Regions from separate parts of the Homo sapiens genome. Here regions 1, 2 and 4 are each linked to region 3. Evidence: fine-mapped expression QTL. A gene starts in region 3. Each other region holds a variant in brackets. All regions are shown on one strand. Distances are from middle to middle.

The links. PIP is the estimated chance that this variant, and not a neighbour inherited with it, causes the effect.
Region 1: its variant is fine-mapped to the expression of LINC02218 in whole blood (TOPMed, PIP 0.91).
Region 2: its variant is fine-mapped to the expression of LINC02218 in whole blood (TOPMed, PIP above 0.99). The same link has a PIP of 0.9 or more in neutrophils.
Region 4: its variant is fine-mapped to the expression of LINC02218 in whole blood (TOPMed, PIP above 0.99).

The regions. Positions count from the first base shown.
Region 1 is chr5:17,461,915-17,470,024 of GRCh38, reverse strand. The region is part of intron 1 of LINC02218 (long intergenic non-protein coding RNA 2218); the gene reads right to left. Among named protein-coding and RNA genes, the nearest start is that of LINC02218, 22 kb to the right of the region's middle. The variant A/G (reference allele first, on the strand shown) is at 3,257.
Region 2 is chr5:17,474,195-17,482,304 of GRCh38, reverse strand. LINC02218 (long intergenic non-protein coding RNA 2218) reads right to left here. Exons shown (of 3, transcript NR_134270.1): 2 at 4,549-4,690. Among named protein-coding and RNA genes, the nearest start is that of H3Y2, 14 kb to the left of the region's middle. The variant G/A (reference allele first, on the strand shown) is at 4,602.
Region 3 is chr5:17,440,466-17,448,575 of GRCh38, reverse strand. It overlaps LINC02218 (long intergenic non-protein coding RNA 2218), which reads right to left and starts at 4,566. Exons shown (of 3, transcript NR_134270.1): 1 at 4,342-4,566. It overlaps LINC02217 (long intergenic non-protein coding RNA 2217), which reads right to left. Exons shown (of 2, transcript NR_134275.1): 2 at 6,882-7,107.
Region 4 is chr5:17,629,908-17,638,017 of GRCh38, reverse strand. TAF11L13 (TATA-box binding protein associated factor 11 like 13) reads right to left here and starts at 5,930. Exons shown (of 1, transcript NM_001401695.1): 1 at 5,334-5,930. The coding sequence starts at 5,930. The coding sequence ends at 5,334. It overlaps TAF11L14 (TATA-box binding protein associated factor 11 like 14), which reads right to left and starts at 3,558. Exons shown (of 1, transcript NM_001401687.1): 1 at 2,965-3,558. The coding sequence starts at 3,558. The coding sequence ends at 2,965. RefSeq lists an enhancer at 5,394-6,146. The variant A/G (reference allele first, on the strand shown) is at 3,257.

The DNA.
Region 1 (8,110 bases), 21 kb before region 3:
TTATGTAATTCCTGTCTCATACAACCTGGCCTCAATATTTAGATTGCCCCTTCACTGTGTTGCAGGGGTTTTTTTGATAGAAAATTTGTTACTGATTATGCACTTTCCCAAGGTTTATTCAAAGCATTGACTGTCTCCCAATGAAAGAATTGCTTCAGCTCATATGCTGTATTTTCCCGGGAGTGGACTGGGGAAAAGAGTTCTATTCACACAATCCTGCACTTTCCTTATTCTTGGTAGAGTGCTTTGTTCTGACTACCTGCCTTTGAGGCTGCATCCCCTCCATTCCCCATGCCTCCCCCCTTCCAGGTGCTATAAACCACCATTCTAAAAGTTTGAACCCTTGAACTCCTGTGGCAGGTAATCAAGCGAGGAACTGCTCATTTAGTCCAAGCTGAAAACAAATTCCCCTATTCTGTAGAACATAAACAGGGTTACACCTATATCACACCCTTAAATACTTCTGATCTGAAGAATCCTGGAATTCATACTGTCTACTCATGTTCCTCCCAACATCACCTATGCTACCTTTATCACATATATGTGTTCTTCTTGTTAAAATGAAGGTATATAAAAATGCTGCTTAAGTATAATCAACACACACACACAAACACACACGCACACTAAAGATTCTTTCCAGAATGCATGTATTTATGCCAAGTAAGAGTAACAAAAAGAGAGTAAAATGTGTAGAATTCTGATATGTTGGAGAGCTTCTTCAAAGAATGGAATATGGCCTCAAATTCCACCTGTGAACTGGCAACCTTGATTTACAAACAAGAGAACAGGGTAATATACTCACATAATTAACACTACCCAAAGACTGTAAAAAGTAAAGTAATATGTAAAGTACCTAGTAAATCTATGAGTCAACAATCCTTTGTCTTTTCATTGCATTTATGTTCTTAACCATTGGTGTTTGGGGGCTTAACCATTGGAGCTTTGGGGCCTCAATATTTCAAATATTCTGTCTAGAAAATCTTTTACATAAAAATATACTGTCATTCAGCTTTTTCACATCTTTGATATTTTTTTCTTAATTTTTTTATTTTGACCTTCATTTTGGTTCATTCCTTTAAGTATTTCAAACTCATCTTACTGAAGATACCCTCTCCCCTGATTTCACATCTCAAAGCAAATGAATACAGACACACACACACACACACACACACACACACGCCAAGACGGCAAAGGATGGTTCCAAATTCACAAGAGCAATCAATAGCAAAACAGACACATTTAAGTACAAATATTTTTACATTCTAGTTCAGTCAATGTTATGCCCACTGAACCATGCTACTGCAGTAGGACATCTAGTACATTGTTACTGATCAGCAATTGCCAAATGTTTAACTACGAGTAAAAACAGCTTTGTGTTCAACCTATGAATGATACCCAGGTCAAAGCCAAACCGCCTCCAACCACTGCATTATTATCCCATCTATTGTTCCCAATTCAATGCTGCAGCCAGCCAACGCAAATCAGCCCTTCCTGGTGGGTTTATTACCTTTCTATCAGAGCCATACCTCCCCCAGCAAGAATAGGAACCCTGACTAAAGCAAATCACAATGTTACCATTCTGGAAAGAGGGGCTTGAATGCAGGCAGCCACCAATACCAGCATCTCCTGCCAGGTGGAAGCACAGCTCTGTGTCACAGGACTTCTCAACAAAGACACATTTGGTTACCTCCTGACACAGAGGGTCAGATGGGCTTCATCAGCTATTCATTAAATTTTACCACAGTTCTTCATTTTCTCTGCCTACATCAAGCTTCCCCTATCTGGAATTTTCTCAGATGAACTGAGCTTTTAGCAGCATCCACTCTACTTCCAAATCATCAGTTTATTACAGGATTTATTCACCGAAATAGGTGCAGTTAAAAACATATTCAAATAGTATACTTTTACTTTTGACTGTTCTACTGTCTTCAGAGAAAGAGTATTTCAAGGAGGAAATAATTTGATAATTACAAAACGTTGGAGCCAGAAGGGCCTCAATTCCAACTGCTGTCTTGGAACTGTCTCTATACCTCGGTATAGAGAAGGTATAGAGAAGTTGAGGCAGTTTCAGGTCACACTAGAAAACCAGGCTAATATCTCAAACCGAAACTGAGGCCCCCAGACTCTCTGTAGAAACTTTTCATCACCCACAATCACCCACATCACCTTACTGCACTATCAACGTGAAGCAGCCGCTATCAGCAACCGGTCATTAGGCATCGGCAAGTGACTCGCATGCTAGGCTGGCTTTTATTCTCATTATTAGCTATTTATTTTCTTCATATTAAGTAAAAAAGATAAAAAAGTAATACAATAGCTCTTGTAAATTTTATTTCCTATTCTTATTCACAAAACAAGTGAACAAGTATAAAGCTCTTATTACACGATAAATAGAAACACTCATTACATTCATAAGCATTATCACTCATATATAGATAACGGCAACCAGAATCCTTACCAATGGATTGGCTTTTTAAAAAAACTAATTTGAGATATTCAAAAAGTCTTACTTTCATTGTTAATCATGATATCAGAATAGTAACTATATAAAACATCTTTTTATTCTGTAATTATTTAGAAAGAAAAAAATTAAATTAGCATCAACAGACCTGGTTACAGGATTTAGTTGGTATCATGGGAACCACGGCATAGCACCATGGTTCTCAGTCTCAGCTGCACATTTGAAACATCTGAGGAACTTTTAAAATCTCAATAGCCAAATCATAGTTACAACTGGTTATTTTTTTTTAAAAGTCTGTAGAGTTGGTATCAAACCATCAGTAGTTTTAAAACTCCCCAAGAAATTTCAATCTGCAGCCAAGTCTGATAATCACTGGCATAATTACAAGCTTTATATAAAATATATACAACATTGGGGGCGGTGGCGGTGGCTCAAGCCTGTAATTCCAGCACTTTGGGAGGCTGAGGCGGGCAGATCGCGAGGTCAGGAGATCAAGACAATCCTGGCTAACACGGTGAAACCCCGTCTCTACTAAAAATACAAAAAATTAGCCAGGCGTGGTGGCGGGCACCTGTAATGCCAGCTACTCCGGAAGCTGAGGCAAGAGAATGGCGTGAACCCAGGAGGCGGAGCTTGCAGTGAGCGGAGATCGTGCCACTGCACTCCAGCTGGGCAACAGAGCAAGACTACGTCTCAAGGCCGGGCGCGGTGGCTCACGCTTGTAATCCCAGCACTTTGGGAGGCCGAGGCGGGTGTATCACGAGGTCAGGAGTTCGAGACCAGTGCGGCCAACAT[A/G]GTGAAACCCCGTCTCTACTAAAAGTACAAAAATTAGTCGGGTGTGGTGGCACACAGTCGCAGCTACTCTGGAGGCTGAGGTGGGAGAACTGCTTGAACCCAGGAGGCAGAGGTTGCAGTGAGCTGAGACCATGCCATTGCACTCCAGCCTGGGTGACAGAGTGAGACTCCGTCTCAAAAAAAAAAAAAAAAAAGACAATTTAAAAAAAAAAAAAAAAGTATATATATATACACAAAATTGAATCCTGCATCTGTCCCTTACTTTATAAACTTGGGAAAGTTTGTTATCACTCTCTGCCTCAGTTTCTTTTCAGTAATACGATGGTGATGATTGATGATGATGATGACAATGATGATACTTATCTTGTAGTGTTGTTATGTGGATCATTGTTAAGGTACATAAATCTCTCCCACAGCACATGACAAAGGACTGGCAGGCAACTAATGTTAGATATCAGTTTATGCAAAAATTCTGTTTCCATTTGTGGTAGAATAGCTCATATCAGACTAAATCTCCTATAATAAGAATATAAACTGCAGACAAATTTTTTTTAAACTGTTTGAAGGCACTGGTATACAATCCAAAGCAGGCAGAAACTGAAGGAGCACAGTAGGTGAGCTCCGTAATTAGTTGGCTTTTCCCCTGATAACACGTTCAGGCTCCCTGCAGTACAAAGAGAAAATGAAAATCAACCAAGAAATGTAATCCTATTGGGAAAAGGACAGGAAGACTGAAGTTCAGAGATTCTAGCAGAACATGAAATTGGAAGAAAAATATTCAGAAAAAAGGGAGACTGCCAAATCTGCAAACAAACTCTCCTCGAATCCTTGGCTTTTACCTAAACTGTCTATTTTCGTGGTGAGAATCTAAGCAATCCAGAAGAAAGCAGCACCTGAAAGGATAAAGAACTGAGAAACTACCTCAGCAGCTACCTAGTGACTCTCCAGCCTACAGCTCAAATCTGGCGAGGTTAGAGGAGCTTGATAAATACCGTTGCTGCTCATTAAGACTCTACAAGGACCACACATTAGGAATAAGAAACACATATCATGACTAAAGTCTATGGCACAGAACTAAGGGAAAAACTATAACAGATGCCCATTCAAAAACTCTAAAACCAAGCCTCCAAAAGATCAAGGGAATATGCTAGTAACTTAGTCACCTTCCAAAGCAAAATTTAACACTCTATAAAAAGATAACAAAAGGTTTATTGTCTTAAATGTTTATCATCCAATCAAAAATTACTAGGCATACAAAAACACATGGAAATATGACCCACAACTAACAGAAAAAAAAAATAGTAAATAGGAGCAGATCCTCAGACTGGTGATATTGACATGTTGACTTTGATGTTGAAATTAGCAAAGGCTTTAAAACAGTTAATAGAATTCTGATTAAAAATTTGGGGGAAAAGGTGGACAAAATAGATGAACAGATGTGGAATCTCAGCGCAGATGTAGAAACCTAAAAGAAAAAAACCAACCAAATCATAAACATTACGAAACTGAAAATACATCACCATACATAAAAAGTTTGTTAAATCAGTTTAATTGCAGGCCAGACCTACAGAAGAAAGAATAAGCAAATTAACTTAAAAACAGAAATATAGAAAAAAAAGAATAAATTCACACACACGAACAGAGCATACAAGACCTCTGGGGCAATATTTTATCATCTAACATATGTGTAATTCAGGTCCCAGAAAGAGATTAGAATGAAACAGAGGAAATACTTGAAGAGATAATAGCTAAAACCTATTCTAAAACTGATAAAAATACATCAACAGATCCAAAAAATTTGCAAACTGCAAGCAGGGCAAACACAAAGATAAACCCATCCAGGAATTTTTTGGCCAAACTGGTGAAAACTAATGATTAAAATAAAATATATTAAAAACAATTAAAGAAAAAAATTATGCATTATATTCAGGGTGACAGCAATAAATATGATGGCTGACTTCTCATGAAAAAAAGAAAGAAGATAATGAAATGATATCTTTAAAATGCTAAATGAAAAATGTTAACTGTTCATTTTTCAAAAACGAAGGTGAATTAAAGCCATTTTCAGACAATGGCTTAGAGAATATATTGTAAGCAAAACCTCACTACCAGAAATGTTAAAGCAAGTTCCTCAGGCTGAAGGAAATGACAACAGATGAAAAGCCTAATCTGCAGAAAAGAATAAAAGAGTGGTTGGGTGCAGTGCCTCACACCCGTATGGGAGGCCGAGGTGGGCAGATCATTTGAGGCCAGGAGTTCCAGACCTGCCTAGCCAACACGGCAAAACCCGTCTCTACTAAAAATACAGAAATAGGAGGGGCCAGGATGGCCGACTAGAAACAGCGGCCTTGGGTGGCTCCTATTAAAAAAAAAAAAAAAAAAAAAAAAAACAAAACAAAAAAAACATAATAAGCATGTGACTCCTTCACCGGCAACCAAGGTGTCCAGGTTCTCTCATCAGAACTGACTAGAAGGCTGGTGTGGCCCACAGAGAGGAGGAAGAACAGTGTGGTGCTGCAGCCACGTGGGGCAGGGGAGCACCCTCCCCTCAGCCAAAGGAGGCGGTGAGTGAGTGTGCTACCTAGCCCGGGAAACCGTGCTTTTTCCACAGAACTGTGCAACCCATGGATCGGAAGATCCCATTTGTGAACCCATGCCGCCAGGGCCTAGTGTCCCAACCCCAGAACACACAGATTCTCAACAGTTGGAATCTGCTTAAACCCACCGAACCTCCGGGAGGAGGGTCAACCAGCAACACAGCTGAGGCTGCCTGCTGTCTAAGCCATTTGAGCTCCTTGGAGAAGGGGCAGCAGCCAGCACTAGGACTTGCAACTGCCTAACACGGAAGCTCCCTGGGTGGGGGAAGGGTGGCATCCATCTCTAAAGCTCCAGGCTGCTCTTTTCCCCTGCTGGAGCCAAGGAGACTGGACGGCTTGCTCCCAAGGCTTGTACCCACAGCCTAACACACCAGTTGTGGCAGTCAGCAGCCAGAGTGCCTCTTCAGGCCTGACCCTGACCCTGACCCATCCTTCCTCACTGGGCGGGGCTTCCCTGCAGAACTCCAATAACTCCAGCCAGAGGCTCAGGGGAATAAGCTGAATCTCCCTGGGCCTAGCCCCTCAGAAAGGGGGTGGCCACAGTCTCTGCAAACCTTTCCTCCCAGTAGTTCTGAGGAATCCGGGCAGCCTAGACAAGTGGGTTCCCCCCCAGAGAAGCACAACCCCTTCACCAAGACACAAAGTGCTTTATTAATGGGTCCTGCTCTCCGTGCCACCAAACTGGATGAGACCCTCCAACAGGGGTTGTCAGATGCCTTATATAGAAGCAGTCCTACTGGCATTAAGTTAGTGCCCCTCGAGGTCAGAGGTCCCAGAAAAAGGAGCAGGCACCCAACTTTGCTGTTCTCCAGCCTCCTTGAGTGACATCTCCAGGCACCGGAGCGAATCAGATGAATAGAGCCTGAAGTGAACTCCCAGCAAACTGCAGCAGCCCTACGGAAGGACCTGACCATTGAAAGAAAAACAAACAAGCAAAAAACAACAACAACAGCATCAACAACAACAACAAAAAGCCCCCACAAAAACCCCACCTGAGGGTCAGGTGGGGTTTTTAAAGACTGAAACTAGACAAACTCACGAAGATGAGAAAGAATCAGTGAAGAAATGCTGAAAACCCAAAAGGCCAGAGTGCCTCTTCTCCAAATGATTACAAAGTCTCTCCATCAGGGGCACAGAACTAGATAGGGGATCAGATAAACAAATTGACAGAAGTAGGCTTCAGAAGATGGGTAATAAAAAACTACGCTGAGTTAAAGGAGCATGTTCTAACCCAATGCAAAGAACCTAAGAACCTTGATAAAAGGTTAGAGGAATTGCTAACTAGAATAACCAGTCTACAGAGGAACGTAAACAAACTAATGGAGCTGAAAAACACAGCATGAGAACTTCGTAAAACATACACAAGTATCAATAGCCAAATCAACTAAAGAAAATAAAGGATATCAGAGTTGGAAGACCACCTTGCTGAAATAAGACATGCAGACAAGATTAGAGAAAAAAGAATGGAAAGGAATGAACGAAGCCTCAAGAAATACGGGACTTCATAAAAAGAGCAAACCTGCAATTGATTGGAGTACCGGAAGGAGACAGGGAGAAAGGAAATAAACTGGAAAACACACTTCAGCATATTATCCAGGAGAACATCCCCACCCTAGCAAGACAGGCCAACATGCAAATTCAGGAAATACAGAGAACACCATTAAGATACTCCATGAGAAGATCAACCACAAGATACATAATCATCAGATTCACCAAGGTCAAAATGAAGGAAAAACTGTTAAGGGCAGCCAGAGAGAAAGGCCAGGTCACCTACAAAGGGAGGCCCATCAGACTAACAGTGGATCTCTCAGCAGAAACCCTATAAACCAGAGGAGATTGGGGGCCAATATTTGACATTCTTAAAGAAAAGAAATTTCAGCCCAGAATTTCATATCCAGCCAAACTAAGCTTCATAAGTGAGGGAGAAATAAAATCCTTTCCAGAGAAGCAAACGTTGAGGGACTTCATTGCCACCAGGCCTGCCCTACAAGAGCTCCTGAAAGATGCACTAAATATGGAAAGGAAAAAACTGGTACCAGCCACTGCACAAACACAACAAAATATAAACACCAATGACACTATGAGGAAACTGCATCAACTAGTGTGCAAAATAACCAAATAGCATCACGAAGACAGGATTAAATTCGCACATAACAATGCTAACCTTAAATGTAAATGAGCTAAATGCTCCAATTAAAAGACACAGACTAACAAATTGGATAGAGTCGAGACCCATCAGTGCGCTGTATTCAGCGGA
Region 2 (8,110 bases), 34 kb before region 3:
GCAGGGGAATTTCTTAACTGTCATGGTCTTTCAGAAAACCGGTCAATGCCTTAGATGCCCTAAATCTACCAAGCATAGTTCCAGGCACTTATTTCCTACTTGGTTTATCCTGTTGTAATTTCTTTAATTATTACACAGATACTGAATTTAAACACATAACTGAAACTGTTTATGATATTCAGAGACCATAAGTGTTTCATTTTATTGTCGCAAAATTTCTTGTTGGGTATCAAATAGGTATAAGCAGAAGTTAGCTCTCTGATGACTCTAAAATGAATCTGAAGTTTACAAAAACCAACACAGTGCTTACAAATTATTTTGATGCTTCCTTTTTTAGCTGAACAATATAAAAGGGAGCTGGGAAAGATGAGTTCCCTTCATGGTAGAACATAGAAGCTACATGGACTGGGAAGATTCATTCCAATTCTTCATTCTACCAGATCTGAATCGACTCTGCTCTCTAGTGGGCACCCCCATCCTTTAACTTCGGGGTATGGAAAGATCAAGACAGAAGAAAATAAAAGAAGAAGAAAATAAGGGGCAAGGGAGCAGAAAAGAAAGAGCGGTGTGCTCTATAGGAACTGGCATTTCCTTAGGAGTGGAAAAAGAAAATTCAAACCCAACTATGCCCCTCCATCCCCTAACCTTTCCCTATCGAAGCAAGCTGCCTCCTCTGAACCACTGTACTGAGATTTCTAACAATGCTGTGCCAGCTTTCCCCTGCCTTGTTCCTCTAACAGCTCTCCTCCCATCCTTGAATAATAAGAATCAGCTGACAAACTCTGGGTCTTAGAGATGTATATGCTTCACTTGTGTTTAGCATTGGGCGTGAAGATCCAAGGGGGTAGCAATCACAGAGCATGGTAAGAAACACGTATTTATTCCTAAAGGCTTTCAGGTTGACTGTAGGGTGCATTTACATTGGATGATTTGATTTCTGGAGTGTGTGTGTGTGCGTGTGAGCATGTGTGTGTTGTGTAAGGATTGTATTACCACTAAAACTCTCTGGAATATAGTAAGACCAATTTAGATTTAACACTTCAGTTAGTTGGTTGATTTTATTTTTTCTCCATAAAAATAAATAATTATTTTATTTTTTCTCCATAAAAATAAATGATTATTTTATTTTATAATTTCTGTTTAGGTACCATCACTGAGTGTTATTAAAAAGGGAAAAAAATGCAAGCTAAAAAGAAAAAAAAGGGAGAAAAAGGTAATTACCAACAAATTGTTAAGAATACATCTGTTTTTTTAACATTGCTTATTAGCATTTATTCCATAAGTATTTAGTGTTCACTGAGATTATAGCAATAGTCTCTGGCTTCTCAGCAGACCACATTGTCACCTCCCTCAAAAAATTATATATATATGTATAATATATAGTACTTGTATCTATTATATATTATACTTATATATAATTTTTATATATAGGTATGTATATCTATATGCCTATTAGATATATACACACCTATATATGTGTGTGTGTATGTGTATATATATATATATATATATATATATATAAAGCATATATATATCAGATGGAAACACATCGGTTCCTACCCTTAAACGTGTCTACATCTGTATCCAGATCAGATTTTTCAGATTTCTCCCTTCTCTTTCATCACAATGATGATTCCTCCCCCACCTATAAATTATTCTCTACCTGTGGTCTAAGTCCCACAGTAGCCTCTCTGAAAATATCCCTTATTTATTTATTTCTGTCTTTCCTCTCTACTACTTTTACCCCAGAAGCAGATAAATACTGTCAATGTCTCCTGCCTTGAAAATAATTAACTTCACTCTCCTCATCTACCCACTAGCTATTGGCTATTCTCCTCCCACCTAAGAACTGGGCTCCTTCTGAGAGTTGTCAGTCCGGCCTGTCTCCTCTTGGTCAACTTCTGTTGACTTCTCAAGTCTGGCTTCTGCCTTCATCACGCCACTGACACTCCTCTCATATGTCAAATGCAGGATTTGACAATGTTCACCACTCATTTCCTTTAAAAAAAAAAAAAAATCCTTTTCCTGTGGCTTCTGGATCAGGTTCCCAAGCTATTCTAGGTTGATTTCCCTGTGTTGACATACTTCTTTTTTTTTTTTTTTTTGAGACAGAGTCTTACCCTGTCGCCCAGGCTGGAGTGCAATGGCGCCATCTCGGCTCACTGCAACCTCCACCTCCTGGGTTCAAGTGATTCTCCTGCCTCAGCCTCCCGAGTAGCTGGGATTACAGGCGCATACCACGATGCCCAGCTAATTTTGTGTATCTTTAGTAGAGACGAGGTTTCATCATGGTGGTCTCGAACTCCTGAACTTGTGATCCGCCCGCCTCGGCCTCCCAAAGTGCTGGGATTACAGGAGTGAGCACCACGCTAGGCCAACATACTTCTAAGTCTCCTAGTGAACTCATCTTTTTCTAGCTGGCTGAATGGTCATCAATTATCAGGGTCACTCTCTCAGCCTCTTACTTTTCCCCTTTTCCTGGTTCTCCTGACAACCTCATCCATTCTTGCCTCTTACAACCATCTCTATGCTAATGAATACACCTCCCATTTTCTCCCTTCATTTTCAACTCATAGAATTTCCAAAATTAAAGAAACACAATGGAAAGAGGAATAAAAAATGTATTCCTCATACCATAGGTCTGGCACCAACTTTGAAGTTGTTTTATTTCCCCAAAACTCTGTAGCATTTATGCATCTAAAAGTTGCATCACAGGCTTTGGTTGTGAAGATCTTGAAAAAAGCAGAATTCTTTGCACAGTATATGTTTTTAAACTGGAGATTAAATTGTCAACAAACTGCTTATTATATGTTTAATAATATGACAAGAGGGGTTAGATGATGTTAACTTTGAATTGAATTATTAAATGTTAAATCTGGGTAATGAGTGCATAGGAACACATTATCTAGCATATGTTTAAATTTTCCATAATAAAAAGTTTCTTTTTAATTTCTACCCTCATAGTGCTTACGTGCTACTTTACAAAATACAGAATTCTCAATTCAAAGGAATTGAACCAAAAATCAACCTAATCCCATCACCCTTCAATGGGACTAGAGAAACTAAGTGACTTTTTCATGTTTCCTAGTTTCTTACACAAAAGTATTGATGAAAATGACAGCATATAGACTCATCTATTAAATATGAAATTTAACCAGAGCTGACTGTGTATTGAGCACTTTCCAAGGGTCAAGAGAATTGAGATGAATCATTTGTGCAAAATTTATACTACAGCCTTTGAACCAGTGAACAAGCTAGAATAATGTAGAACATTTAGGGCAGACATCTTTAAGGTTCACTATAAAAATCACAGAGAAAGGAATATACCACAAAAGCCTTCCACTCCTGACAACATGGAAAACATGGATCTCTGAATCAGCTTTGAGAAGGTGACAGCTTTGGGTTTTGTGCTTTAAGGAACACCTAGTTTAAAAATGAAGGTGCCTTGCATGTGCACTGAACACCTTCCCAAATGTTGTCATGTTGCCTGCTGGAATTTTTTTTTTTTTTTTTTTTTTTTTGAGACAGAGTCTCACTCTGTCACCCAGGCTGGAGTGTGATGGTGCAATCTCAGCTCATCACAACCTCCGCCTCTCAAGTTCAAGCAATTCTCCTGCCTCAGCCTCCTGAGTAGCTGGGATTACATGCGCGCACCACCACACCCAGCTAATTTTTGTATTTTTACTAGAGAAACATGGTTTCTCCATGTTGGTCAGGCTGGTCTCAAACTCCCGAACTCAGGTGATCTGCCTGCCTTGGCCTCCCAAAGTGCTGGGATTGCAGGTGTGAGCCACCGCACCTGGCCTCCTGCTTGAATATCTTAAACACTCCTATCAACATAGGTGCTTGTAGTGGGCTGAATGGTGGCACCCAAAAAGATGCGCATCCAGTATCATCTGTCTGGGCTCTAAGTGCAATCACATGTTCTGGGCTCTCAATGCAACCACCTGTATCGTTTTAGGAAAGGGTCTGAGTTTGGGGACAGACACACAGAGGAGAGATACACATAAGAGGAGTAGGTGACATGAAGATGGATCAAGGAGAGACACAGCCACAAGCCAAGGGACAGCTGCAGCCACCAGAAGCTGGAAAAGGAAAGGATCACATTCATCCCCAGAGCCTCTGGGGAGTAAAGCTCTGCTGATACCTTAATTTCAGACTTCTGGTCTCCAGAATTGTAAGGAAAGTAATTTCTGTTGTTTTAAGCTACCTCGTGTGTGCTGATGTGTTACGGCAGCCCTGGGAAACTAATGCAGTGCTACGTTTCCTTCCTTCTGTTAAAGCTACTCAGCTATGCAACATGCTACTGGCTGCTACCTTAGAGTTGAAGAGAATTTGTGTCTCTAATAACATGATGACAGACTTTAAGAGGATTCCTTCAAGAACTTATTTGCATGAAGTAAAGATTCAGTCTTAGAGTTTTCAATATTCATCACATAGGCTATGAGAAGGTCCCTTACTCTTCATTGCATGGGCCTCAGTGTGGGAGGGGGTGTGGAGTGAGTGCTTAACATCTGCAGATAGAGCGGAGTTCACTTAAACACTTACTGATCCGTATCATGAGCAAAGTGGTGTGCTGTCACTGCTACTGTAATGGGCAC[G/A]GCTGAAGACTGGTCCTATGACTTTCCGCAGCTCAGAAGGATGCTTAATGGCATTTTGAAATAGGACTGCCTCTATAATTGGCAGGAACCTGTGAAAAATAAAAATGTAGGGCTTCTTGTTCAAAAATTATCCAGAATATCAAAACAGCAGAGAATTAAGTCAAGTAAGTACCAGGCTCTTCTGAGAATGGACCCTGTGCAACTGCACAGATCAAATGTCCGTGAAACCAACTGTGTTTAGACATATTCAGTTCAAGGAGAGTGTATTGTCAGGGAAAAACCTTCAGAGATGATTCTTCCAGCAAAGAAAAAAAAAAAAAGTGGGGAGTGGAACAAGCTTCCCCTATACCTCAGTGTGGCAGAGACCCAGGGACAGAAAACCCTGGCAGCTGGTGAAGACAGAACCTCTCAAAGCAGAATGAGAGGCAACGAGCCACAGTACATCTCCCAGATAATTAGAGACAGTGATTGGAAATAAACTGAAGCTCGGCCTGGTGATGGGTATCAGAGGAAAGCAAGAGCGCCTTAGCAACATAATTAACAAAGGCTCTAATCTAGTCTTGAGCAAGCATATTTATTAACAAGCTAAATATAGATAGATACTAGTACACAGTAATAACATCAAACATATTAATATGTATATGCTAACATATTGAAATTTATGTACATATACATGTATATCTATCTTTTAGCCATTTTCTCCTTATTGTCTTTATCCCATAGCATTTAAATACTGCCAAATATTATATATTACATGTATATACTACTATTTCATATATATTAGTATACAATACTATTTTATGTAATATATTTAATATTTTATAAAATTGTATATAAATTATCTTATACAATATATGATTGTGTATGTAGTACATGTGGCTTTTTTTTTGAGACAGAGTCTTGCTCTGTCATACAATATATGATTGTGTATGTTAATACATGTGGCTTTTTTTTTTTTTGAGACAGAGTCTCACTCTGTCATACAATATGTGATTGTGTATGTAATACATGTAGCTTTTTTTTTTTTTTTTTTGAGACAGGGTCTTGCTCTGTCACCCAGTCTGGAGTGCAAGGGCGCGATCTCAACTCACTGCAACCTCCACCTCCCAGGTTCAAGCAATTCTCCTGCCTCAACCTCCTGAGTAGCTGGGACTACAGGCACATGCTGCCATGCCTGGCTAATTTTTTGCATTTTAGTAGAGACAGAGTTTGTGTGCCCAGGCTGGTCGGGAACTCCTGAGCTCAGGCAATCTGCCTGCCTTGGCCTCCCAAAGTGCTGGGATTACAGGTGTGACCCACTGCGTCCGGCCAATACGTGTGTATTTTATACTATGGAGGGACCTCATGGGTGCACTGAAGGAAGCATTTAGACCAGTGAATTTTTTTTAACCTTTATCTTAGGTTTGGGGTACAAGTGAAGGTTTGTTAAACAGGTAAAAACGTGTCATGGGGGTTTGTGGTACATAGTATTTCATTACCTGGGTACTAAGCCCAGTACCCAATAGTTATCTTTTCTGCTCCTCTTCCTCCTCCCACCCTCCACCCACAGGTAGGCCCCAGTGTCTGTTGTTTCCTTCTCTGTTTCTTGGTTTCTCTTTTTTACAAGACACAGTTTTACTCTGTCACCCAGGCTAGAGTGCAGTGACACGATCTTGGCTCACTGCAACCACCTCCCAGGTTCAAGTGATTCTTGCACCTCAGTCTCCTGAATAGCTGGGATTACAGGCATGCACCACCAGCCTGGCTACTTGTTGTATTTTTAGTAGAGATGGGGTTTCACACCATGTCGGCCAAGCTGGTCTCAAACTCCTGACCTCAAGTGATTCACCCGTCTTGGCCTCCCAAAGTGCTGGGATTACAGGTGTGAACCACCATGCCAGGCCATTGTTTCCTTCTTTGTGTTCACAAGTTCTCATCATTTAGCTCCCACGTATAAGTGACAACATGCAGTAGTTGGTTTCCTGTTCTTATTTTAGTTTGCTAAGGATAATGGACTCCAGCTCCACCCATGTTCTCTCAAAAGACATGATCTCATTTTTTATGGCTGCATAGAATTCCATGGTGTATATATACCATATTTTCTTTATTTAATCTGTCATTGATGGGCATTTAGGTTATTTCCTGTCTTTGCTATTGTGAATAGTGCTGCAATGAACATTTGTGTGCATGTATCTTTATGGTAGAATTATTTTTATTTCTCTGGGTATATAAGCAGTAATAGGATTGCTGGGTCAAATGGTAGTTCTGCTTTCAGCTCTTTGAGGAATCACCATACTGCTTTCCACAATGGTTAAACTAATTTACACTCCCACCAACAGTGTACACATGTTCCTTTTTCTCCACAACCTTGCCAGCATCTGTTATTTTTTTACTTTTTCATAATAGCCATTCTGACTAGTGTGGGATAGTACCTCATTGTGGTTTTGATTTGCATTTCTTTGATGATCAGTGATATTGAACTTCTATTCATATTCTTGTTGGCTGCATGTAGGTCTTCTTTTGAGAAGTGTATGTTCATGTCCTTTGCCCACTTTTTCATGTGGTTGTTAGTTTTTCTCCTGTAAATTTGTTTAAGTTCCTTATAGATGCTGGATACTAGACCTTTGTCAGATGCATAGTTTGCAAGTATTTTCTCCCATTCTGTAGGTTGGCTATTTACTCTGTTTATAGCTTCCTTTTCTGTGCAGAAGTTCTTAAGTTTAATTAGATCTCACTTGTCAATTTTTGCTTTTAGTTGCAATGGCTTTTGGTGTCTTTGTCATGAAATCTTTGCCTGTTCTTATGCCCAGGATAGTATTGCCTAGGTTGTCTTCTAGGGTTTTGATAGTTTTGAGTTTTACATTTAAGTCTTTAATCCATCTTGAGTTGATTTTTGCATATGGTCTAAGGAAAAGGTCTAGCTTCAATCTTCTGCATATGGCTAGCCAGTTATCTCAGCACCTTTTATTTAACAGTGAGTCTTTTCCCCATTTCTTGTTTTTGTCAGCTTTGTCAAAGATCAGATGGTCATAGATGTGCAGCCTTATTTCTGGGCTCTCTATTCTGTTCCACTTGTCTATATGCCTGTTTTTATACCAGTACCGTGCTGTTTTGCTTACTGTAGCCTTTGTAGTATAGTTTGAAGCTGGGTAACATGATGCTTCCAGCTTTGTTCTTTTTTCTTATGACTGCCTTGGCTATTCAGGCTCCTTTTTGGTTCCATATAAATTTTAAAATAGTTTTTTCTAGTTCTGTGAAGAATGTCTTTGGTAGTTTGATACAGATAGCACTGAATCTGTAAATTGCTTTGGAGAGTATAGCCATTTTAATGATATTGATTCTTTTTATCCATGAGCATGGGATGTTTTTCCATTTGTTTGTGTCTTCTCTGATTTCTTTGAGCAGTGTTTTGTAATTCTCTTTATAATTTGTAATTGAACAATATTTTGCCAATTCTTTCACCTCCCTGGTTAGCTATACTCCTGTGTATTTTATTCTTTTTGTGGTAATTGTGAATGGGATTGTCTTTC
Region 3 (8,110 bases):
AACTGCAGCAAACAAAATATTCTACAGGACATATAAATCCTGTATAAAACCTGAACTTTGAGCTATGAAATTCTGGTGGCTTTCTCAACCCAGTCAGTTTGACACTGTGAAATCTAAGACTATACCCGAAATGCTCATTCATTTTGAGGTATGTGTGTTTATTTAGGGCTATTTTGCTTTTAACCAAGTGGTTATCCTCAAAATATACAGCTTCTGTCGGGGAGGATAAAAGGAGGAAAATCAAAGTTTAATCTCCAGTTCTCATGGGAGAAATCTGAAGAGCAGTTGTCCTCCTTTAAAAAAAGTTAATAAAAAATGTTTTCATTAAAAGATAAGATCGTGGCATGTTAAGACAATTTAACCATTTTAATCTAATGCAATAATTTCCTCTAAAATAGATACTGTGTTTGCTATCCAGTGGGCAGTGGTTTGGGAGAGTATTTCTGAAAGATCCTTTGGCTAGTAGTTGCCTAGGACAGAATTTACCTCGGGAACAATACTCACACACAGTGACCATTCCCACTATTCTTTTGACTACACAGCTTACACTAAGGTAATAAAAAGACCAGCTATGTTTTCAGGATGCAGTCAAGACCCCATCCAAAAATAAAATAAAACTTACATTTTAAATTAACTTAAATGCCTATATTTTATTCAATTTGCTTCTTCAGTGCTAATGTTCATCTGTCAAATAAAAACTGTACAATGTTTACAGTACAAATAAGAAGAAAATGAAGCACAATGATCAGGAAGCATCTTCAGACAAGTTACATTCATAACTCCAACCATAGCATAAAATGTTTGTAAATTAATTTTTCAGGTTTTGATGCACTTTTCCAACATATATGTCTAATTTTTGTATTTTAAATCACATGAGCACTACAGAAACAAATATAAATAAATAAAATCATCTTTCAGCCTACCTACCCTGACTTCATACCCCCAAACACTTTTTTCTACACATTTGCATAGAAAATACTAGAATGTTTGAGTGTCTATTATATAGAGTATCATTTATTCAACAGAAAGAGCTACCAAGTGAAATGGTACACATTAGAAGAGAGTGATTTTGCAATTGCTGGATCACTTGACTGTGACTTGAGAGGAGGTTTCTAGAAGAAATTCAAAGTTTAGATGAATGCCTGAGGGTAGTCTCTTCTTACCTTAATCTACATGTTTCTAACCCATCATTATCTCAAAGTTATCACACACACACACACACACACACACACACACACCACAGTTTCTCGACTTCACTGAAACCCACTGTCCCCTAAGGATACTGCTTCTCCTCTCAAGCAGGGGCTGGGAGATATTTTCCATCAAACTCCAAATATCTCAGTATCAGAACCAAGGCAACGTCCTCCTGACTACCCAATGCCACTTGCAGACGAATGACTGCACTCTCTTTTGTAAGTTGCTCCTTTGAGTAGTTGACAATAAGAGCTTCTTCTCCCTCTAGTCCTCACTTAATCATTTGGTCACTCCTTAAAGAATTTAGCACTCAACTCATAGTCTCCTTTTCACCCAACCCTACCATCATGCTAAGCAGATTTAACATCACTTGGATGCACCATCAACACCTTGCCCAGCAGTTCCTTACCCTGATACCCACTGATAGTTGTCATCATTCACCTCAAGCACCAACTTCCACAGTCACACCATGAATTTGGTTAACATTGGAAACTGCACTTCAGATAATTCTGCAATAATATAAATACCTTCACAAACACCACCACCACCATCTTCAACTTCCCTTTCCAATGGCCTTGTTTTCGTCCCCTCATACAACACTTCTACCTATCAAGAACTGCAATCCAGTGACACTTCAACTTTCTCTACATTCATCAGCCTCCTCAGCTCTCCACATCTCTCCATCAGTACAATGTCACCTCCCTCCCCCGTGTCCACCTCCAACTCCTGGCTTCGTATTTTATCTGGCCTATTCCTATTCATCCTTACTCGTACCGCTTTCTTAGAAAGGGGCTATCCAGACTTCTAAGCTAGATGATGTTCTTCTGTTAAGCCACCTTGTAAGTTCTTTGTGCTTTTCTTAGCTATTATTCAAGCACAACAATGATCATATTGCAATTAATGTCATTGTGGATTTGAACATGGAAGGTCTATTTTATCCTAGATTGTAAATTGGTTAAGAGCAGAGATCATGACTGTTTTACTCTCAATTACATATGTCAACTAACACCATGCCTGGCACATAGAAGGCACTCTAGGAATATATGTGGAGTCACACACACACATACACATACTTATGCATACACACTCATACACTTACCCATGAAGATTTCTTCCAGTAAATGGGTATCTGTATTATGCAAGCAACATGAAATCAGAAAGAACATTTTGGGGTTTTTGCTGCCTAACACCAAAACTAATTGCAGCCACTCTTCAAAAAAATGCAATAACTTTATAAACAGCCACATCCTGATTCTTACGGTTGAAAGCTCTCCATTCTCTGCTGAATATTCATCCGTTGAGAGGGACACTAGCCTAGAAGCTCAGCACTTTCTGAAAAGAGAAGCAGCAGGAATAGAAGATGTGTGGAGAGGAAAGAAAGTCAAAGGCAGGCTCCTGCAATGCAAAGGTGCCAGGAACAACGGTGCAATCCCAGGCTGTGTAACACAGGATGGAGGAGGGAGATCTCACTTTTATTGTAAATAGCAGAATTCTTTAAAGGTAGCTACATTAGCAATCAGATCTCATAGATGCTGGAAACACAAACACCTCCTTTCTCATTAAGGGTAGGGGGATCCAGCATAATTTCTCTGGACCAGGAAGATGGAGGAGTCTTACTTCTCTTGCCTTCCAACTGCATCCCCCACTCAATCCTAGATTGCACAAGGAAGTCAACACTACCTCCCCCAACAAGCTCCAAATCCCTCTCTTCACAGCATTGTCAATTGAATCTCTTCATCCAATCTTGGAAACAGTCTGGAAAAAGAAGCAGAGGAGAGAAGAAAGGGGAAAAGTTCAAAAGTACTTTAAACTCTGCCAAAAAAAATCAATTAGTACCAATATACACAGAGAAATGAATGACAGAAGTCATCGCAGCAAGGTATTTCCTCATGACTCCTTCAACTGGCCAGGGCCAAACCAAGGTGTGCAAATAATCTGAGCAACTGTACACTTTGGCACACCTTTGCTATGTATACATACCTTCAATATGTATTTACAGAAGCTGGAAATTGCACAGGGCAGGACCAGGAAAGAACGGGCAGAAATGTTCAACTGCATGGCCAATGTCCTGAGCTTTAGCCCCAGAGTTGTGTGTCCTACTCTGAAGCCCTACAAGTCATAGGACCCATTCACCCCAGAGCCAGTGCAGCCTATTTCTTTGAGATCTCAGTCCCATCTCTCTAATGGTATCAAAGAACCCTCCATTTACATTTAGTGCTCTCTTTGAAAGGAGCCATGATAGACTTTAATCCAAATTTACAAAAAGAAAAACTGGATTCCAAAGAACGATATAATTAGCATAAATACTGGGACTACACACTGCCACATAATAAAACAGAAAGCATCAAAATATATAATTGTGTATAGCACCTATACACTAGCATAGGTCAAACAGCTGAATGATTAAAGGAGTTTTGTTTTGTTTTGTTTTAATCAGTCAACTAGGAACTTCTTAATGCAGTCACTTTGGCATGATACAAACAAAATCTTTCAAACTACAACACATCTTAGAAACAGCAAATACTACTGCTGTTCACGTAGCAAGGAAGGTTACAAGTAAATCTCCCAATATCTCAGGTGTAAAGAAGTGTTCTAACAAGGTCCATTTGTATTAAATCAAATCACCAGACTAAGGCATCTATTTTGCACCACTTACTCAGAGCAACAGACAAAAAGACAGGCCTTTGGGTTTATTTATATAAACATTCTTCCACAGGTAGTCACAGAGGAGGAAGGAGTACAATGTAATTTGATGGTGGATGAATTTGCACAAAAAGGAGACTAAAAAAGAAAGATTATTGTGACCCAACACTCACTCTTTACTTTTTAAAGTTGTGGGGAAAAGAAATGGCAAAGCTTTCTATTTCTGTAAGCTTTTGTTGTAAAGAATTGAATAAAAAATAGCAATACCTAATCATCTCTAAATTACTTCAACTAAAAACACCACTAAAGACCTTATAATCTTTTTTTAAAAAATTCATTCTCATAATTTCTTCCTTGGCCCTGAAAACGATGGTTTAAAAATAGCTTGATTTGCATCTTATTCTTTTACTGCCTTTCTACAAATACATTTTGAAATGCTTGCTTACGGAAAAGCTGTTGCCTGCTTAGCTTTCATCATGTATGAGATCACACTATTTCGCTCACCTGGAACTGTCGTGTTCTCTGTTCCCAGCAACGGTCCGATAAGGAGCATCCTTGCTAAATGATATGTTTAAAGTATGTATAGCTACGTGTATTTTCAAATGCATAACCAATTTCTTAAAAGAGATGGTAACTCATGCCAGAAGCAAGGAAAAGATTGAAAGGCAGGCCTGGAAACAGAGCTGGCCCAGTAGCAGCTCCAAATATGTCAAAATGCTAGTGTTATTTAAGACACCGATACAATATCCCTGATGATGAAACAGGAAACGTTCCCTTGCGCCACCCGCAGGGTGTGCAACAGGAGGAGTGGCTCGCTTCTTCCGTGCCCCACTGCTCAAACCTCTAGGGGAGCATGCGGACGGCTGGGTTGTGGGGCTCCAACCCAAGAGCAGTGTCTAGGGGTGAATGTTTACAGCTGAAGCCCCAGTGGGCACACGTGTGTTACAGGGTGCTCTTTTAGTTTTGCCATCTGTAGGCGACTTGTGTTAGTCAGCTCAATTAGACCCCCTGGCTTATCTCAAGGACAGAGGACTTTCTGTATCCCAGGGTCCTTGCCTTGGTGTACCGGAAGAATCAGATCACACGTGGGCTTGGAGAATGAGTTCAAGGTTTTATTGAGAGGAAGTAGCTGTGAGCAGACAGGGGAGACAGAAGGGAGATGGAGTGGGAAGGTGTAGTTTCCTGGAGTCAGGCCACCTAGCGGCCTGGCTCTCCTCCAACCACGCAGCCAAACTCCATGTCCTTCCGCCAGTCGATGGCCTGCCAGGGTCTGCCTGTCGGCGTGCTCTTGTTGACGTCCTCTGGACGTCCAGCCGCTTGTGTGAGTGCCCACTAGTGTTTCGGGGTTTTTATAGGCACAGGATGGGGGCGTGGTGGGCCAGGGTGGTCTTGGGAAATGCAACATTTGGGCGCAAAGGCAGGAGTGCCTGCCCTTACCTAGGTCTGTGGGCACAGGCACCGGGGTGAAGCCCTCGCCAGAGACCTGCTTTCTCCTCCCAGCACTTCCCTGCCCCCCTCCCTTATCAATAACATCTGCATTTGTAGCTGGGTAACCAGGGTATTCTTCATACAGCTGCAAGTATCTGGCTAATATATTGATAGGGTTTGGATCTGTGTCCAGGCCCAAATCTCACGTTGAATTGTAATCCCAGTGTTGGGGGTAGGGCCTGGTGAGAGGTGATTGGATCATGGAGGAGGATTTCTCATGAATGGTTTAGGACCATCCCTTTGGTGCTGACGGCAAGACAGTGAGTGAATTCTCAAGAGAGAGTTCTGGTTGTTTAAGAGTGTGTGGCACCTTGCTCGCTCTCTCTTTCTTGCTCCTGCTTCAGTCACATGAGGTGCCTGCTCTCATTTCACCTTCCACCATGAGTCAAAGTTCCCTGAAGCCTCCACAGAAGTAGACCCAATATGTTTCCTGTACAGCCTGCAGAACCGTGAGCCAATTAAAGCTCCTTTCTTATAAATTACACAGTCTCAGGTATTTCTTTATAGCAATGCCAGAACAGCCTAATACATACATTATGTCTTCAAGTGGGGGTGAAGACATGCTGAACATTTACTTCTTGAAATATCCACTATATGATAGTCAGGGTGTTGTATGTTTAAAGCATGTATGTGTATAGCTTACGTTATTAAAAATTATTGTTTTAGAATAGAAAAAGGAAGAGTGATAAAATATTAGGCTGAACCATATGAAATTGCTGATATTTTATAACTTTTAGTCAACAAAATTCTCAAATGAGAGCTTTGGGTCCAATAAGTTTGCTTTGCCCCAGGCAACTTGCCCCACTAGTGTAATTCGGGGTCAAGCCATGTGCAAGACTATCAGACAGTTTGCACATCCAAGCATGACCACTCCATGCTCTATTATGCTAAGACAGTCTCTGTAACTTTTCTGCTTTGAGTTAAGTTACATAAGTCCTCTTTCTGTTACCCAACATTTGTGGGTGCCAGGTCCCTGAAAGGAAGCTATAGGAGCAGGTAAAAATTCTTTCCATATTTATTTGTGTGGAATTTTTACTTTTTGACTGTATACCAGATGTAAGGAAGTGTTCTTGCTCTAGGGCCATCTGTCATTGCAGAGGTAGGATAGATTCACATAATGATAGAGTAGAAAAAAATAAGTAAAGTGACCCAGGTTTAAATCCTGTCACCTGCTGTTATTGGTTGTGTTTCACTTCTTGACCTACAGAATCCTTGTCTATAAAACTGAACTGGGGACCGTGCCTAGTCATGTAAGTTCATTGTAAAATTCAAACAAAACAAAGTCTGTCAAGGATTTTGAAATGCCAAGATACAACCATGTGATCAGGGAAATTTACATAAAGAACAGAGTTGGGATCATGATATTAGAAAAACCAGAGAGCGATCGGACACAATGGTTCACACCTATAATCCCAGCACTTTGGGAGGCCAAGGCAGGTGGATTGCTTGAGTCCAGGAATTCAAGACCAGCCTGGGCAACAAAGCAAGACCTTATCTTTACAAAAAAAAAATATTAAAAAAAAAAAAAACAGACAGAAAACTAGAGTGGGCCAAAGTTAAGGGCTCTAGAAGTTCAATTCCAAAAGGAATATTTATTCAGAACGCATCAAAGGGTCTACTGGAATTGGAAACACAGTCATCATTCTTAAGGATAAGAACAGCCAATTCCTTAGATGCAGGTCTTCTGAGTCAGTGGACTCCACACTCCTGGGCTTGCATCCAGATTATCATCGACTTCTGTACTGATGCTTGCAGGGGAGGCTCCGTGGACTCCCTGTATATCTGGACACACAGAAAAAAAGGACAGTCAAGTTTTTCATGTTGGACAGTAAGAATTTAATTTGTAATCTCTATTTGTCACATATGTCCATACTTTTCTTTGTGATAGTCTCATCTGAAGCTTCTGGAAAAATAGGGGAAGATCTTATGGACTGTTAGGTTGGAAGAACATAGCTGCCCAAGGCTTCTTAAAAGTTGACCCTAAGGGGACTTGTGGTTATAAATAGAATGCCGTTAGTTGCAGGAGAATACAATCCTGTTAGACTAACTAAAAACGACAAATTAATTGCAAAAAAAATCCATATAAAGAGATCAGTGAATTATGGAAACAAAAAGAATTAAAAGAACAAAAATTCCAGAGAGCAGAGTGTTTTGCCAAGATTAGCTACCTTTCACAGGCTATTTTCTTTCTTGGGATGTTTGCTGATTTGAAACACAGATCAGATCTGGTTCATGCAGAAGCACTGTAGGAAGGAAAGAGAAGCCAGCAAAGCTTGTGGCATTCATAGAAGCAACCACAACAATTTGGAAACAAAAGTATCCCCAAATGCCTTGCCAATTTTCCTCATAGTACCCTTGCTAAATTGAGGCTGAGTAAAAGGTTAGGAGTTTCTGCAAAGTAAGTTAAAATCTTCAGAAGTCCCATAATAATTGGGAGGAAAAGTTCCACTGGAGGAAAGGAGTCTGCTCAGAAGGTGGCTGGTCTCCCCAAGATTCTCATCAAATTTGGATGGAGCATACGGCAGGATACTACACAGCCCGAAACTTCCACTTTCTTTCAGAGCTGTCAATCAACAGTGTGGAAGAGACAGGCCTGAGGAATAAAAACATAGCTAGAAGTGGAGAGGATTTTACTAAAATGTCAACCCAGTCTTGACCTAGTTCAGCCTCTTGGATTGGGGTGATCACCTCCTCACCTTATCTGCCCCACAGAGAAAGCACAGATTCCTATCTGGTCGAAGTAGCATCATACAGAGCTTTGACATGTGCTTTGTCCACAATATCT
Region 4 (8,110 bases), 190 kb before region 3:
GCTAATTACTTGTGGAGGGCAAAGGCAGACAGTGAAGATGTTAAGCTTATCCCAAAATAGTAAATTATGGAAAATAGTCAAGTACAGTCACTTTATTAGGTATCTTGTCACCACTTTACCAGCACCAAACAGAGACCACATTTTTCTAGGCAGTCTCCAAATGTACATTATGAGATAGACTTTAAGAACAGTAATGAAGCTCCAGGAAAAACTTCATTAACATGTAATACAATCAGTCATGAAAGCTGTCAAAGATTTCTCCTGGAAAGATACCACTTTCTACAGATTTCTTTCTTGAGAGCTGTGGCTGTATGATATTATATATTGAGAAGATTTAGTATGTGATTATTAAAAAGTCAGGAAGCAACAGATGCTGGCAAGGCTGTGGAGATATAGAAACACTTTTACAATGTTTATGAGACTGTAAATTAGTTCATCCATTGTGGAAGACAGTGTGGTGATTCCTCTAGTATCAGAAATACCGCTGGACCCAGCAATCTCATTACTGGCTATATACCCAAAGGATTGTAAATCATTCTACTATAAAAACACATACACATATATGTTTATTGCAGCACAGTTTACAATAGCAAAGAGTTGGAACCAACCCAAATGCCCATCAATGATAGACTGGATAAAGAACCTGTGGTATATATACACCATAGAATACATGGCAGCCATAAAAAAAGAATGAGCTCGTGTTCTTTGCCGTGACATGGATGACACTGCAAACCATCATTCTCAGCAAACTAACACAGGAACAGAAAACCAAACACCACATGTTCTCACTCATAAATGGGAGTTGATCAATGAGAATATATGGACACAGAGAGGGGAACATCACACAGCGTGGCCTGTCAGGGGGTGGGAGGCAAGAGAAAGGAGAGCATTAGGACAAATACCCAATGCATGCTGGGCCTAAAGCCTCGATGATGGGTTGATAGGTGCAGCAAACCACTAGGGCATATGTATACTTTTGTAACAAACCTGCACGTTCTGCACATGTATCCCAAAATTTAAAGGAAAAAAAAAAAAAGAATGTGTAAGGACACTGAACCTTCTCAGCTAATCCAATTTTCCTCTCTGAGAAAACAACGCTGTGTTCCAGCTCCTGAACTGACCTCTGAGACCTTGATGGGAACTTGTTTCTGTCTTCAGCAGTTCAGCTTTACTCAGACCCCACTCAAAGTATTGAGTTCTATCAGGGGCCAGAAAAATGTTCTAAGCTTGAGTGTGGAATCACCATCAGCACTGCTCTCTGCAGATGTTTGTCTCAACCTCAGGTTGCTTGGGCCAGGTTCTCTTTTCCTCTAGTGTTCTGAAAGGGCTCGACCTGCCACATCTGCCAGAATACAACTTCCAAGACTGCTCAATGCCATGAAAAAGGAATGAGCTGAGAGCAATATAAAGACTAGGAGATATTAAGTCTCTTGGATCTCACTTCTTTTGGTTGCTCAAGCACTTCAATTCCTGACAGAGCCCTCACATCTCCATCATTTCTTCCAAGAACCTGTACCCTCCTTGTGTCTCTAAGACACACTGGTCTAACTTGTTAAATGCCTTTACAAGAAACTTGGTAAAATAAAAGGAAAGCTAAACGATGTCAGAATATGGAGGTATGAAACATAATTTCCCCATACTTGGTAAAGTTTAGAAATTTGTGTGCTACCCAAAGGCAGATTCTATGTACAATAAGTCCTATATTAAGAGCAAAAGCTGAGTGTATGAGGAAATAAAAATATATTTCATGGGGGTATCTTTGGCTTCAGGAAGAAAGAGAACATGTTATTCTCCATTCAATATTAGAGCTGAACTATGGGGTCTTTTCGATCCTTTTTGCTTATACTCTGTGATTCAGGGGGCACATGGCAAAGGAAAACAGACTGAAATAGCACCATGGATATCTGTGAGCTGTGCTGGGAAGGTTCACGGTGATTCCATAATAAATCCCAGGTCTTTATTCTGTAATGAAAAATTACTCTTTTCCATCATAAAGGTAAAGCAGAGTATGTACAAGTAGAGTGTGGAATAACTTTGTCACTCGTGATGAACCTACTTGGTCCAATACTTTAACGACTTCTCCAATGTCTCTGTATTCAGGTTTGATTTCCTGAGTGGCTCATTAGTAGAATGAATAAAATCAAGACTCCTCTAAAGCAATGTTTGGAACTAAATTTTAGTGTCTCTGGAAGCCCTGGTAATATCACCATGTGTAGCAAACATGAAGTATCAGTAGGCTCTCTCTGTGCCTTTTAAACTACATATATGTTCATTACAAATGGCGGCTTGAGGAAAGGTGGCTTTGGAATTGGTTTCTCTCTAGTCTTACGTGATGCATCTATACTGTATCACATTTAATAAAGTAAAGGGTCACTTGCTGACATAAAGCACAGTAGGCAGGAATAGGAGAAGAGTCAACTTAGAGAAAAAAATGCTTTGTGATTTTATTTTTATTTCTGCAGTTTGGAAAACAGTTTAACTGTTTTTGTGATGACTCACAAAAATACAAAAGAGCATTGAAAATACAGAGAAGGACAACAATTGGGGAACATTTCTGGAGGCTTCACTTACTGAAACCCAGACATAAGCATACAAGCTAAGACACAGCAACACCAGGCTTCAGCATGAAACCATACAAATCTCCTGGAAAGGACTTCCCTCTCTGAATGCAGCTACCTGTCCACAGGATGCTCTAGGCCCAGGCACCTTTATTCTTCCAACTGGAAAGACATACAAAAATGCCACAATATGACCTCAGAGGCCCAAACATTTAGCCAAGGCTCCTATGAAGCAATCTGCTGTCTTCATCCAGGTAAGGCCAACTTCACATTTTAAGACACTATGATCATGGGTAAATACAGGGTAGACTGAGAGGCAGAAGCTCCAGCAAACACAGTCCTGTCATTGGAAGATGAATGCAGTACTTACTCCTGCAAAAACAGACCCTTCCCTCTGGCCTTGGGCCTAGAACATGACTTTTTTATAGTTGTTGGGGAAGAGGCCCTTGGGCTTTAACCTGCAAACAGCCTCCCTTAAATCCATGGGCTGCAATGGGGGCATTTCTCCCCACATCTCACACATGTCCAGGGCCTCTTCCACCACCTCTCCAACAAAGACCTTGGCTATTCCAGCCATGGCAATGGCCATGTTCTCAGGCACCGATCTCCCAGTGATAGACCACATCAGACGTGCAACAAGTGCTTTTGGGAAAGCTAACTGGCGACACACTTCATAGCGGGACAGCTGCTCCTCAGAC[A/G]TGGCAGACAGCAGGGTTGTCATCCTCTGAGCCTCCTCTGCATCCACACTGGGCTTCCTCTCCTTCTGGCCTTTGGTATCTGTTTTCTGTCTTTTGGCTGCAGGAGGAGCTGAGGCTGAGGCCTCATTGTCAACTACTGTGAGGTCCATGACATCCTCACTCCTGAGCTCACATTCCTGAGCCCTGGGTTCTTCCAAGTTCCCATCTAGGGCCTCAGGGATTCCATCCTCGTTGCAGCCCTTCAGACCTCGGGGTATGGCGAACATCTCAGCAGACACACCTGTTTGCCTGCCGGTCTCCATGGGTGAGATTCAGGTTGGCTCCATGACAGCAGCTGTAGAAGCAGAAGTTCCACCTGGGGTGGTTTGATTATGCATCTGAAATCAGAACCTTTCACAGATTTTAGCCGCTATGTTTCTGCTGAGCCATAGGTTAGCCACAACTGGACACAGCTCCCTGCCTCCCCTTTCCACACACAAACACATACACTGGTTTTCTCACTTCCACAATGTGAAGAAACTTGTGGATGGACAGTATATTAGTTTTAGATCAATGCAGAATCAATTCTCACCAATTTTGGATATTTAAAACAAACACCAGCTCACAGGTCAGAAGTTCTACTAGACCAAGTGACTGCCTCCTGCTCAGAGTCACACAAGGGACCTCCAGGATAGCTCTGGCTGTGTGGTCGTTGCCTTCACCTGAGAAGGGTCTGGCTTTGACCTGATTCGAGATTATGGCTTTCTCACAAGAAATACTACTTTGGTGAAACTCTATTGAAATTATCAGTACTTTAAGTTTCCAATACTTATCAAGTACAATAGTTGAACATGGCATGGTAGCTGAAAGTGTAAGAGGCAGAATTTGGCAGACTCCATTTTTTTCAATTTCAATGGTTTCAGGTTTTTTGGTTTCCGCCAAACTAAAGAATGTCCTCACGAGCTGTGAATTCACAGGTCACTACAGACAATTTTTGAAACTGAATCACACTGTAATTTTTGGCATATGATCTGTGAGCTGTGCTGGGAAGGTTCACGGTGATTCCATAATAAATCTCGGGTTTTTACTCTATAGCGAAAAATTACTCTTTTCCATCATGAAGGTAAAGCAGAGTATGTACAACTAGAGTGTGGAATATCTTTGTCACTCGTGATGAACCGACTTGGTCCAATGCTTTAACGACTTCTCCAATGTCGCCGTACTCAGGTTTCATTTTCTGAGTGGATCATCGGCAGAATGAATAATATCAAGAATCCTCTAAGGCAATGTTTGGAACTAAATTTCAGTGTCTCCGGAAGCACTGCAAAAATCACCACGTATAGCCAAAGTGAAGTATCAATAGGCCCTCTCTGTGTCCTTTAAACCGCCCATATGATCGTTACAAATGGCGGCTTGAGGAAAGGTGGTTTTGGAATTGGTTTCTCTCTAGTCTTACATGATGCATCTATACTATATTGCATTATAATACAGGAAAGGGTCACTTGCTGGCATAAAGCACAGCAGGCAGGAATAGAAGAGTCAACTTGGGGAAAAAAAAGTGTTTTGTGATTTCATTTTGATTTCTGCAGTTTGGAAACCAGTTGAACAGTTTAACTGTTTTCAAGATGACTCACAAAAATACATATGAGCATTGAAAATGTACAGAAGAACAATCGGGGAAACATTTCTGCAAGCTCCAATTACTGGAACCCAGACATAAGCATACAAGCTAAGACACAGCTACACCAGGCTTCAGCAGGAAACCATGCAGATCTCCTGGGAAGGGCTTCCCTCTCTGAATGCAGCTGCCTGTCCACAGGATGCTCTTGGCCCAGGCACCTTGATTCCTCCAACTGGAAAGACATAGAAAAACGCCTCCACATCCCATTAAAATGCCCAAAGATTTAGCCAAGGCTCCTATGAAACAATCTGCTGTCTTCATCCAGGTAAGGGCAACTTCACATTTTAAGACACTAAGATCGTGGGTAAATCCAGGTGGGACTGAGATGCAGAAGCTCCAGCAAACACACTCCTGTCATTGGAAGATGAACGCGGTACTTATTCCTGCACAAACAGACCCTGCCCTCTGGCCTTGGGCCTAGAACATGACTCTTTTGTAGTTGCTGTTGGGGAAGAGGCCCTTGGGCTTTAACCTGTGAACAGCCTCCCTTAAATGCTTGGGCTGCAGCGGGGGCGTCTCTCCCCACATCTCACACATGTCCAGGGCCTCTTCCACCACCTCTCCAACAAAGACCTTGGCTATTCCAGCCATGGCAATGGCCGCGTTCTCAGACACCGAACTGCCAGTGATAGACCGCATCAGACCCGCAATGCGTGCTCTTGGGAAAGCTGACCGGCGACACACTTCGTAGCGGGACAGCTGCTCCTCAGACATGGCAGACAGCAGGGTTGTCATCCTCTGAGCCTCCTCTGCATCCACGGTGGGCTTCCTCTCCTTCTTGCGTTTCGTATGTGTTTTCCGTCTTTTGGCTGCAGGAGGAGCTGAGGCTGAGGCCTCACTGTCACCTTCTGTGAGGTCCATGACATCCTCACTCCTGAGCTCACCTTCCTGATCCCTGGGTTCTTCCAAGTTCCCATCTAGGTCCTCAGGGATTCCATCCTTCTTGCTGCCCTTCAGACCTCGGGGCATGGCGAGCATCTCAGCAGACACGCCTGTTTGCCTGCCGGTCTCCATGGGTGAGATTCAAGTCTGCTCCGTGACAGCAGCTGTACAGGCAGAAGTTCCGGCTGGGGTGGTTTGATTATGGATCTGCGATGAGAACCTTTCAAAGATTTTAGCTGCTGTGTTTCTGCTGAGCCAGTTTCGCCGTAACCGGACACAGTTCCCGGCCTCCCCTTCCCACACACAAACACACACACTGAATTTTCTCACTTCCACAGTGTGAAGAAACTTGTGGAAGGAGAGTATATTAGTTTTAGATCAATGCAGAACGAATTCTCACCAATTTTGGGTATTTAAAACAAACACCAGCTCACAGGTCAGAAGTTCTGCTAGGCCAAGTGACTGCCTCCTGCTCAGAGTCCCAGGAGGGACCTCCAGGATGGGTCTGGCTGTGTGGTCGTTGCCTCCACCTGAGAAGGGTCTGGCTTCGATATGATTCGAGTTGGTGGCAGAATTCAACAATGCCTTAGGGTTGTGAGCCCCAGGCCCACTTGTTTGTTCTGCCTGCTGCCGTGAGGATGCTCTCAGCTCCTACCCGTGCTGCCCAGGTCTGGGCCGTGAGGCTCCCTGGGTGTGCACAGCCAGTGCTGGGGAATCTCCCACAGGGGAGCGTAATCACAGGGGGGTTCAGTCCTCCCTTATAAAGGGCTCAGATGATTGAATTAGACCCAGCCCTTAGCAGCCATTGGTTCAGGATATCCCTAATCTAATCAGGAAGTTGGGCGGGCACATCAATTCATGCTTCCGCCCACACCCAAGGGAGGGGCAGACACAGGGCGAGTCTCTGAGGGGAGGGAAATGCAAGGGACATTTCAGAATTCAGTCTTCTTCACAGAATCGAATGATTCCTCACAACAATAAAGAAACAATAAAGAAACTATTTACAGTAAAAATGAGACATTTTACGAAATTGCGCATTAGAAAATTTAAATGTCTGAGAAAAAAATCCCTAACTCATAGGGAAACAAGTGATTTATCAGGCACTCTGAAAATAAACTGGGCTGGGTGATGGGAATAAGAAAATATGATTTCAATGTTATTTTTTTTAATATATTTATTTATTTATTTATTTTTGAGACAGAGTCTCGCTCTGTCCCCCAGGCTGGATTACAGTGGCCTGATCTCAGCCCACTGCAGCCTCTGCATCCTAGGCTCAACGGATTCTCCTGCCTCAGCCTCCAGAGTAGCTGGGACTAAATGTGCGCACTACCACGCCAGGCAAATTTTTGTATTTTTTCAAGGAGAGACGAGGATTCACCATTCCGGCCAGGCTGATCTTGAATTGCTGACTTCAAGTGATCTGCCCCACTTTGATTTCTCAAAGTGAAGGGATTACAGGCATGAGCCACTGCGCCCAGATTTCAATTTTATATATTACATGTGTATGTATACATAGGTCACAGAGAAGCACCAAAGAGACATAAAATTACGTCATGCACAAAGATTTACATCACATTTAGGGAAAATTATGTTGATAAATGGCATAAAAACTACTTCAGAAGATAAAGCAGACACTCAAATATCTGACTTTTAAAGAGCTTTTGTTTATTCAAAAATAGTTGGTAGAAGATATGAAATTACTGGCCAGGCACGGTGGCTCATGCCTGTAATCTCAGCATTTTGGGAGGCGGAGTTGTGTGGATCTCCTGAGGTCAGGAGTTCATGACCAGCCTGGACAACATGGTGAAACCCGTCTTTACCAGGAAAACATATTTACATCGGAATCTTTGTAAGTCACATAGGGCCTTTCATTTCCAATATTTACTGGTACTGAAGTCATGATCGGTAGGTTATAAGCAGAAACAAATGGCAACTCAAAGAGGGAGAACCATCCAAAACTTGAAAATTAACCCCTGAAATAAAACAAACACAGATACATAAACTTCTCATAAAAATTAATTACCATATACAGTTATCTCTCACTATACTCTAAAAAGACACTGAATTTATCTAAGCTTTATATACTCCTCATTTTTCTCTTAAACTCTAGTAGGTCTCTATCTAGAGAGATAAACACCCTAGAGAGAGATCTAAATTAATGACTTCTTAAATGAAAAGATTAGAAGGCCACATGCCCCCAAAATATGCAAGATAATTGAGGCACAAAGAACAAAATTTAATGTTGATTTATGTTTATTTTTATCTAAGGAAAAGAATTAAATTAACTAATGTTTATATACAAAATGACTATA